Linked DNA regions of Homo sapiens: region 2 is linked to region 1. Evidence: fine-mapped expression QTL. A gene starts in region 1. The other region holds a variant in brackets. All regions are shown on one strand. Distances are between the middles of the regions.

Region 1 (5,387 bases):
AAAAGATGTCCCTTGTTCGGATAGTTCTTGATTACTTTTAAGATTCAGAAGAACAGCTTCTTTCTCTATCCCAAGTTGTTGGCGTTTGGCCTCCTCACTTTTAATATAGCAGCTATTAACAAATGCAGTTTTGAGAAGATCTAAGGAAAAGTTTTCCTGTAACCGATGTCCAAAAGCTTGTATTTCTGCATGGTAATCCCAGTTCGGCTTCTCTGAACTGAAAATGTAAAGACAGTAAGAGATGGTAAAGAGAACAACCTGTTACTGTGATATAAAAATTGTTCACTGTGTTGTAATGTTATTAATTATATAAAGGAAATGAAAGAAGGTTATATTTCTTTTTAATGCCAGGTTGATATTCTAAATGTTAAGACTAAAGTCAGATAAATACTGGCAGTCCTTTGCTATATTCTACATATATGACTGGATTAATTTTCCCTTTGATCCAATTGTCACATGAAATTGGTTCTTCAATATAAAAGACCAAGCCATTAGCCTAACTTTTAGGTTCCTTATTTCTGCTCTAACCATGATACTATGTTTTATACCTAAGTATGAAGCATAAATGTTAATTTCACAGATTCAAGCCATAAACACTAGTATGTTATATTTGCAGTCATCCCTCAATATCTGTAGGGGATTGGTTCCAAGGACTCTCCTGGATACTGAAATTCATGGATGCTCAAGTCTCTCATATAAATGGTGTAGTACAGGCACACTTCGTTTCACTGTACTTCGGTCTATTGTGCTTCACAGATTTATTGCATTTTATTTTTACAAACTGAAGGTCTGTAGCAATTCTGCATGTGCTCACTTTGTGTCTCTGTGTTACCATTTTTTAGCAATAAAGTATTTTAAATTAAGGTACATATATTGCTTTTTAGACACTACTACTGTACACTTAATAAACTACAGAATAGTATAAACATAACTTAGGTATACACTGGGAAACTAAAAAAGTCATGTGACTCGTTTTATTGTCGTGGTCTAGAACCAACCCTACAATATGTATGAGGTATACCTGTATCTGCATATAACCTATGCACATCCTCCTGTATACTTTAAGTCATCTCTGGATTACTTATACGTAACACAATATAAAACCCCTTTAAGAAACAAAGGGAAGCAAAGTATGAAAACCTAGGTTGAAAGTCGTAAGATATACATATAACATATACACCTATATAATCTGTCCAACCCATAAAGTTTCTTCCACCTTTGAGAGCCTAAAATACTTAATCTTATAATAAACAAGGGAATGGGAATTAAGAAGAGATTTTATTTTTTGCTATAATCTTCTCTGTTAGAAGACCGTTCCTACTGGTAGGAGTACAAAGTGGATCAACATTTTTTGGAGGGCAATGTTAAAGTACTAATAGCTTTCAAAATTTCATACTACACATGCGTCCCCTTTACGCGCTGTTACATAGGTTTTAATGGCAATAATATGGAGCTCATAGGCCCATATATACAGAGCCATAAAAAAGAGTGAGGTACATATCTTTGTAATACCATGACAACATGTCAAACACACATTATTAAAGAGAAAAAGCAAGATGAAGGAATTTAAATTATGTAAAGTATGATCTGGTTTGAAGCTATAAAAACCTGTGTCTCTCTCTGCCAAACCTGTTACCAGAACAGCATTAATTAGGGCAAAAATCTAAAGCTAACTTTTTTTCCTTTTACTCTAGACAGCAGAATTCAGGTTGTAGATTAATTTTTTTTCTCCTTAATTTACGATGCTGTGGGCTGCTTTCTTCCCGCTTATCGGAATTCTCAGGCATTACAAACGGGGACTACAACATCCAAGTCCACATAAGGAAGACCCTCCAGTTAGCCCCATTTCTCCCAATTTTCAGTAGCCAAAATCCTAAATGGTAGTTTCAAAACGTCGGGAACAGCCCGAAGCTCTACCGCCCGCGGCACAAATCCATTTTTTTTGCCTCAGGCCCCGCGCCCACAGCTCACGGGTGTCTCCATCGCAAACTTCCTAAGGCTTAACCCAGGGGCGCATCAGCCGCAGACACGACGCCGCGGGAAGAAGACCCAGTGTCTGCGACCGCCACCCTGAGACCTCTTCCCGAGGTGGCTCCTACCGGCGCACGGGCGGCGGCGGGCACCGCAGAAGGCGCTGCCGCTCTAACTCCTTCTGGAAGCGGAAGGCGGCGCGGAATCCCTTCTTCACTCCCCGAACCGGAGGGACCAGCTTGGGGGCGACTGGAGCCAGGAGGCAGCGATGTCCCTGCTGCAGCAATCTTACCAGCCCGGACGCCATTGCACGAGAGAAAACGATGGAAGACGGAACGAAAGTAGTCGGGCCAGTGTCCCCGTAACACACTTCCCCCGGAACCCGGAACGCGGAACGCGAAGAGAAGGCTGGGGCGGAGACAGCCCCCGGGGCGGGGCGACTGAGAGAGGGCAGGGGCGGAGACAGCCCCGGGGCGGGGTGATTGCGGCCGCCTTGAGGCTACGCTTGCGCTAGTTCTCTCCTCTCTTCGAGTTACTTTCCAATGATCCGGACTTGAGGGCGTTTGCGCCCAAAAGTTTCTGGGAGAAGTTGCTTCACCCTGTCACTCTCTTGTTCCTTCCTCTCTCGTTACAGCAAAACAAACAAAAATCTGTTTCGCTTTCAGGTTAAGGAAACATTTAAATCCTCAAAAAAAGAAAACATTTTTAATTTATATTTAGTGTTCTAGGCCACTACTGAGCAAGTATTTACCGAGCTTCTATTTTTGACCCAGCACGCCTCCAAAAGCCTTAGTTTTGGAAACCCTAGACTCAGAAATGTTGGCTTATCCAAAATTAAAATTTTTCTTTAAAAGCAATCTAATAGTACATATTTTTAAACATCCGGAAAATGACTGGAAAAAAACATAAAACGGTAATAGGGGAATTACAGTTTCTTCCTTCTTTATGTTAACACTCTTTAACAATGTAATTCTATTGCTTTCCTACCAAACTGTTAATACAGTACAATTTTTAAAAGAACATATTAAGTCACAAAGGGAGGCTTGTTTGAATTCCCAGTTTTGAGTTGCCTGCTGAACATCTAGACCCTCAAAGGGGCAATGCTTTCTGTGATCTCTTTGTTAAAGGCATCTGTGTCCCCAGCAGTCACCCAGATTGAACTCCTATGTCTTTGATTGTTTTTGTTTCGACAAACCCCCTCTTCGGTGCAGTTTCCACCAAGTGCTTTTTCCATTTATTTCCACTGCAGGTACCTGGTGGCTCTCCTCACCTCTTTCCGTGGTTAGTGTAATTGGCCTGGTACCTTCCTCCCTTCCCCAGACACAGCTCACCTACATTCATCTCTCTGAAACACAGACCACAAAGCATGTTATGACTTAGCCCGAGAATCTTCAGTGCCAGGATCATAGAACTCAATTTGGGTTTCTCAGCTTGACCATTTCAAAAGGGAGAATCTAAATGGTTCATCTCAGCTTATAAAAGGGTTCCCTTTGGGGAGGGAGAGAGCAAAAGAGGGGCTGAGCACACACCAAAAAACAAACTGATGGATTTCTGGTTGAAGGAAATTCTCCAAGAAGGGGTGAAAGGAGGTTACGATTGACCTTCTTGTTTCAATGTATGTAAAGTATTGAAAATTCATGGAACATCAATCCAATAAATGGATTAGGAGAAAATGCAGGGAACTGTCATTTCTGTAGAATTTCATTTATTAGGAAAAATAATCTAAGCCAGTTGTAGCACAATCATGTTAAGTTAAAATGAGGTGTCTCTGTGTTGAGAGTTTCTCAGTCATACAACAACGAGAGCATCATTTGCAGATTAAAAAAATGTAGGTCCTCAAAAGATTTCTTCTACTAATGCCCTTCATGGAACTTAGGAATTAACCAGTTTTTTAAAATCTGCTCATACATTTGTCTATTTATTCAATAAACACATAATAGGAGGAGGACTTGGTTCCAGGATCCAGGCTCAGAAAACTTTAAGGAAGAAAAAGGCCAATGTGTTTTTCAGCCCTCAAAAACCTGATTTTTCCTTTAACCTGCTGTTAGCCCTAATTTGATCAAAGCTCACAGATGTCAACAACTTTCGAGTTTTCATTGGGTTAAGGTCAGGTGGAAGGGTGGGGAAAAGTCACACTTAGGAAGAGGAGGTGAGGCGATTGAGGGTTCACTTTAACCCTTGGGGAACACAACCTTTTGTGTTTTGATGCCAGGGATATTGCTTATATATTCCTTCAATGATGGTGAAGGCAGCTGGAATACGGGGCACAGAAAGATGGATAACAAAGTTAGTAAGCTCTGCTATAGGACCTTCCTGAACAATCAAGCAATTCTGAACCACCTGGGATTACTCACCACTACTTCATAGATTAGCTAAGGAATAACTACCAAATAGTGGCCTTTAATCCAACTCACAAGGAAAATTACAGACAGAAATAATTACCATAGAATGAAAATTACTATAGTTAAAACTGTTCAAAATACAAAATTGGAGTTACTGATAAATATCGATATAGAATCAGTCTTCACCAAAGTTACATCTGTTCAACCTAGCTTTGGAAAATTTGACTTGATGGAAAATTTGACTTGATAGATCTAAAAGCTGCAACAGAAAACTCATGATAGTAAAACTGATTAGCAAAAAGCCTTAGTAAACCTGAGCAACAAATAACATCTTAGGAAATAAATGTGGAAAAAAATTCATGAAAATACATTAAGCAATAGAAACATGAAAATACAATTAGAAATAGGATACTTGTGCTGTATAGAAAATTGATCAAGAAATTTAATTGGTTTCATGGAGCTTATTCCAGAAAACATTTTCTCAAAAAAAATGCATCAATGTTAGTATAATTCTGTTATAAACACTTTAATTCATAATTATGGAAGCAAAACTTTTTTGGTGTGTTAGCGGCCAGCAAGATGGCTCTCAACAAGCCCCACCTCCTGGTACTTACACCCTTGTACATTCCCCTCTCACATTGTGCTGGGATTAGTCTGTGTAACCAATAGACCATGGATGTTTTTATCAATTCTGGGGTTAGGTAATAAAATACATCATAGCTTCCATTTTGGTCAGATACCTTGTATTTCTTGGATTAGTCTCCTGTCAGGAAGTCAGCTGCTATGTTATGATGTTGCCTAAGAAACTATGTGGAAAGGCTTATGTGATGAGTAGCTGAGGCCTCCCGCTAACAGCCATGTGAATGAATGAGCTGTCTTAGAATTGGATCCTCCACTCCCAGTCAGACTTTCAGATGACTGCCTACTGGCCAGCGCTTTGACTGCATCCTCATGAGAGACCCTCAGCCAGAATCACCCAGCTAAACTGCTCCCAAACTCCTGGCCCTCAGGAAATGTATGAGAAAATAAACGTTTGTTGCTTTATGCCACTAAGTTCTGGAGTAATTTGTTACA
Region 2 (5,387 bases), 34 kb after region 1:
TCTCATGATAAAAGCTGAATGTTTAAAGAGTTTCATATGGATGAGCAAAGAAAGTGGTTTCTTGAGATGGAATCAACATCTAATGAAGATGCGGTGAACATTGTTGAAATGGCAGCAAAAGATTTAGAATATTCCATAAACTTAGGTGATGGAGGAGCAGCAGGCATTAAGAAGATTGACTCCACTTTTGAAAGAAGTTCTATTATGGGTAAAATGCTATTAAATTGCATTGCATGCTACAGAGAAGTCTTTTGGGAAAGGAAGAGTCAATCGATGCAACAAACTTCTTGGTTGTCTTATTTTAAGAAGTTGCCACAGCCACGCCAACCTTCATCAACAACCATCCTGATGGATCAGCAGCATCAACATTGAGGCAGGACCCTCCACCAGCAAAATGATTACCCCTCGCTGAAGGTTCAGATGATCGTTAACTTTTTTTTAGCAATAAAGTATTTTAAAACTAAGGTATGTACATTGATTTTTAGATGTAATGCTACTGCACACTTAACAGACTATAGTGTAACTACAGCTTGCATATGGGAAACCAAAAATTTGTGTGACTCACTTTGTTGCGACATTTGCTTTATTGTGATAAACCTGCAATATCTCTGAGGGTTATAATAATCTCTGTGTTATGCTTTTTTTTTTTTTTTTTAGGAACAAAAAAGCTGACCATTTCATAAACATTTTATTGGGGCTCCAGGACTTCATAACTATTTGTAATGATTATATAAGCTATTGAATTACTCTATCATTAACCCATTTCATTCTTTAACATATTTTCCCCATTTTTACTCCTTGGATAAAGCTTATATGAAGTTTTTTAAATTTGTAGTTCCTTTTTTATTCTATTAAATGATTTCTATAGAACCAATTTCCAAGCCTGGAATTCCTTAATCAAAGTTTATCATTAGTGTTGTTGTCATTATTATTGGGCAGGTGTATTTGTTTCTCTCTATATTGGAGCAAAATTCTTGCCAAATAGTTCTAATTTACAATTCTGACAAAGAAGTATGAGAGCCCTAGAAGTGGCATTTTGTTATTGTTTTGAGTTGTTCCTTTGCTTTCCCTGCACAGCAGTACATTTTAAAAACATTTTAATCTGAAACATTTAGCATAAAAAAGAATCAATTTTGGAATTTTATTTACTTGGAAAATAAATGAATCATCTACAGTGCTGAACAATGATAAACAAATAAAGTCATGGGGCCAGGTGCGGTGGCTCACACCTGTAATCCCAGCACTTTGGGAGGCCGAGGCGGGCAGATCACTTGAGGCCAGGAGTCCAAGACCAGCCTGGCCAACATGGTGAAACCCTGTCTGTACTAAAAATACAAAAATTAGCCAGGCATGGTGACACATGCCTGTAATCTCAGCTGCTGGGGAGGCTGAGGCATGAGAATCGCTTGAACCCAGGAGGCAGAGGTTACAGTGAGCTGAACTTGTGCCATACCGCTCCAGCCTGGGTGATGGAGTGAGACTCTGTTTAATAAATAAATAAAGTGATGGTAGTGGCGTGCATACCCTGTAAGTTATATATGTATAACATAGTCATATATGGAGATACCTTTTCTCATCTGTTCCTGGAAGATATTGCAGCTATATGCAAGTCCTTGCTTCTCTAAAAGTGCAGAGGAGATAGATGGTAGAAGCCCTCCACAGGAATGGTAGCATGGAGAAGTTTGGAAAAGATTTATTAGGCTCTGAAAGCAATGACACATTTCCTTTCTAAGGATCTTTTGGAAAAATATCAGACTATTGTTTTAAAACAACTTAAAAATAGAGCTTGGAAAAGAATGAACACGTTTCTAAGGTTGTGGTTTTAAGGAAAGATTTCTTTTCCCCAGATTGATGTGGTCCTGGAATATAAAAGAAAATCCAGCCATTAGAAAAATGGGCAGAATAAGCAGCAGGAAAAACATAAGATGAGTTTATGTGGGTGTAAAATTGTCAAAATATTAAAGGAAAACATAAGCTGTTTTATCTTAGTGGAGAGAGTGGTTTAGACATTCAATCTAGACAGAAAATATTGTGATTTATACAAAAAATAATACCATCTGATCTTGACACTTCAGTGATTAGACGGTTTATTTATTTATTTTTTTTTTTTGAGACGGAGTCTTGCTCTGTCGCCCAGGCTGGAGTGCAGTGGCGCGATCTCGGCTCACTGCAAGCTCCGCCTCCCAGGTTCATGCCATTCTCTTGCCTCAGCCTCCCGAGTAGCTGGGACTACAGGTGCCCGCCACCACGCCTGGCTAATTTTTTGTATTTTTAGTAGAGACAGGGTTTCACCATGTTAGCCAGGATGGTCTCGATCTCCTGACCTTGTGATCCACCCGCCTCGGCCTCCCAAAGTGCTGGGATTACAGTTTATTAATATTATCCTAGACTTTGAAATAGTTTGCTCCTGTAAATATTACTAAACTATTATTATGTTGCTTTCAACTTACTGAATAGTAGATTTTACTTCCAATTTACTGGATAGTAATTTTTTAGTCTGGAATTTGTTGTATTTTAAATAAGTGGCCCAACTTAAAACTATTTTTACAACCATTTGGTAAATATTCTGGACATAATACAAAATACATTCGTATATTACTCATAGAAATGAGCATCTCTGTTTAATAGGTTCTTGGGGTACAATAGTGTTAAGGGTTAAACTTTGGTTTGATTTAGTCTTGGAAGAGGAAGGGTCTGGTTTGAAAAGAGATGGAAGGGAATGCCAGATGAAGGTGTAAAGACAAAGGTAGCGCCAACCATCCAGGCCAGTTGCCTCATTTGGAACCTGATTCCCAGACAAGGAGGGCCTTCTCTCAGCTGGGATGTGACCGACAGTTTTCAAACAAAAAGCCTAAGAGATCGTGGAAGTCTTGACAATTTCCT[A/G]GTTTATTAGATGGGTCCCAGCATAGGTCCAATTTGTGCCAACCAAACTATATGCTGATGTTTGTCTTCCAAAGGAAGTAATACTGTGTTCAAAATGCTGGAATCTAAGTAGGTTCGATTTTGACTTTGGGCTAGTTTAAGTATTCTAAAGCTGTATGAAATTAACATTAGACTTTTCCAGGTTAAATACTTGGTTGGAAGAGACAACCTTTAAGATTTTCTCCTCCCAGCAGAGTTCTCTGATTTCTGAATTGTGCCCTTCTTTCCATGAGCACTGAGCAAGAGCACATGCCACTAGATCCTTTGAGCCACCTACACATTCATGACCTAAGATTGCTGGAATTGATTTGAAGAGTTTTAGAACATGTCAGCATTCTGTTCTTCCTTTGACCTAAGAAACCCGAACACACAGGCAGCTGGCAGGTTTACTTTGTGATTGTACGAATGAAGCCTGTGAGTGTGAAGTGCTGCTGCATGAATCCTTGATCTCCAGGTGCCTTGGCCTTTGTCACTGTGTGTTTGGAGGTGGAGGAGAATCCTTGAACAGAGTTAATGCTTAGCAGGAAGTTGGCCTCTTGTTTATTTCAATGGTTTTGGCTTCATCCCCTATGTCGGAATGTATCCATAAACATTCTGATTTAAGTAATATGGAATATAGTCAACTCACTGCAATAATATATTGGCTGTTCATGTTTAAGGATCATCATTGGATAGAAGCATCCACTGATTCTTTTAGATGAAGAAGTTATGCTGAAATGGCATCCATCCTGTGATCTGCTCAGAAAACACTGTCTGGAGAGAAGAGTTCTTGGTAGGGTGGGGAGGAAGGTGGATTTAGGGCATAACCTGAGCTGGACGTATTCAGGGAATGTGAGGATGACAGCTCACTGGGATGCAGGCTCTGGGATGGGGAGTCATAGGCGCTAAGGTTGTCAGTTGAATCTGGATTTGAGATAACCACTGGTGGGTTCTGAGCATAGGGGCACTGTGATCCAGGCGGCTCCTTGGGAGAGGTAGCTGGGGGTCAGCACACTGGAGGTGGAGCAGAGGGAGGCAAGAGTCCACTACTCCTGTGAGAGCAGGCCTACTGCTGTGTGAAAGATGGGACCTAGACTGTGGTAGTCACGCTGAGGATGACAAATGAGGATGGCAAACGTGATATATGGGAATTATCGTTTAATTCTTAAAAAACAAACAGCGACACCATTAACACACCCAAAGGAATGAGCAACAGCCAGGTGTGGTGGTACACGTCTGTAGTCCCAGCTGCTCAGGAGGCTGAGGTGGGAGGATCGCTTGAGCCCAGGAGTTCGAGGCTTCAGTGAGCTGTGATCACACCACTGCACTCCACCCTGGGTGACGGAGCGAAACCCTGTCAAAAAAAAAAAAATCTTTAAAATATCCTCAAATATCTATACATATCTTTTAGTTTGAATTAGGATTTAAGTAAGTCTACCTATTTTAATTGCTGGATAGACCTCTAAAATCTCTTTAATCATAGGTTTGTTCTTCCTCTCTATTTTTTTTTCCCTTGCAAATTATTTGTAGAAGAAAGTGAGTCATTTCTCTATGGAGTTTCCTGCAGTCTTGACTTTGCTGAATGGTGCTCAGTATGTTCCCATGTCCTCTGTATTTCCTATCAATTGGTTGGTGGATCTAAAGGATTAATCCAGTTGTGTTAGCCCTAAGGCTTGTTTCTATCCAGTTCACATACAGAATAGCATTAATCTCACTGTGGTGCTAGGTCATCTTATTTGTTTGGATAAATAAAGACCAACTACTAGTTTTACTTTTAATCATATATAATAGTGTGTACAGATCTTGGGTAGAGTTGGACAGGTTCTAACAAATACATATATCCATGGTTACCAACACCCGGAGCCTTGATGTTCCCCTAGAAAGTTTTCTCTCTTCTGATTGCATTCAGTCCTCCTCTTACCCCAGAAGCAACCACTATTCTGATTGTCCCTCTGGTCTCTGATCAGTTTGACTTGTATTTTTTGTCGTTGTTTTACATCAGTGATTTTAATAAAGAAAAACAGACTTCTGAGGGAAGGTAACCAGGCCCACTGGTCCGCAGTCCTGTAAACAAAGCGATGTGATGCTTAGCTGAAGGCGAGGATAGCCACTGTCGAGAGTACCTTGTCTTCCGTACGGTTCAGCCACTCTCTGTTTTAAGCAAAGATAAGCCTTGCCCATCTTTTTCCCTTGAGGAGGGATGCATCCACTGAGGCAAGGGCCAAACTCCATTTTTCACGAGATGGTTTTACTTTGAGCTCCATTTTCTCCTCAGGATCGTGCACCAGCCATGCCTGGTGAGACTTTGTTTTATTGCAAGGTTTCCTGCAAGGTTTCCCACAGCCGGCGTGTTCACACACAACAGGGCACTCTTACTCCTGAAAGGAGACTGTGGCTCTGGAGGTTACATACAGCTGTGCAGGTTCCACCCTGTTCTTCTCTTGGGCAGCAACCCATGTCTCTTTCTTGGATATGTTTTCATGTGC

What was found. PIP is the estimated chance that this variant, and not a neighbour inherited with it, causes the effect. A credible set is the group of variants that fine-mapping cannot tell apart.
Region 2: its variant is the best candidate, but not a certain one, in a credible set for the expression of MRPL44 in whole blood (INTERVAL, PIP 0.53).

What each region holds. Positions count from the first base shown.
Region 1 is chr2:223,954,364-223,959,750 of GRCh38, reverse strand. It overlaps MRPL44 (mitochondrial ribosomal protein L44), which reads right to left and starts at 2,288. Exons shown (of 4, transcript NM_022915.5): 1 at 2,100-2,288; 2 at 1-217. The coding sequence starts at 2,278. RefSeq lists an enhancer at 2,204-2,373 and a silencer at 2,444-2,513.
Region 2 is chr2:223,920,484-223,925,870 of GRCh38, reverse strand. The region is part of intron 1 of WDFY1 (WD repeat and FYVE domain containing 1); the gene reads left to right. It also overlaps the pseudogene GTF3AP3. Among named protein-coding and RNA genes, the nearest start is that of WDFY1, 22 kb to the left of the region's middle. RefSeq lists an enhancer at 3,417-3,917. The variant A/G (reference allele first, on the strand shown) is at 2,884.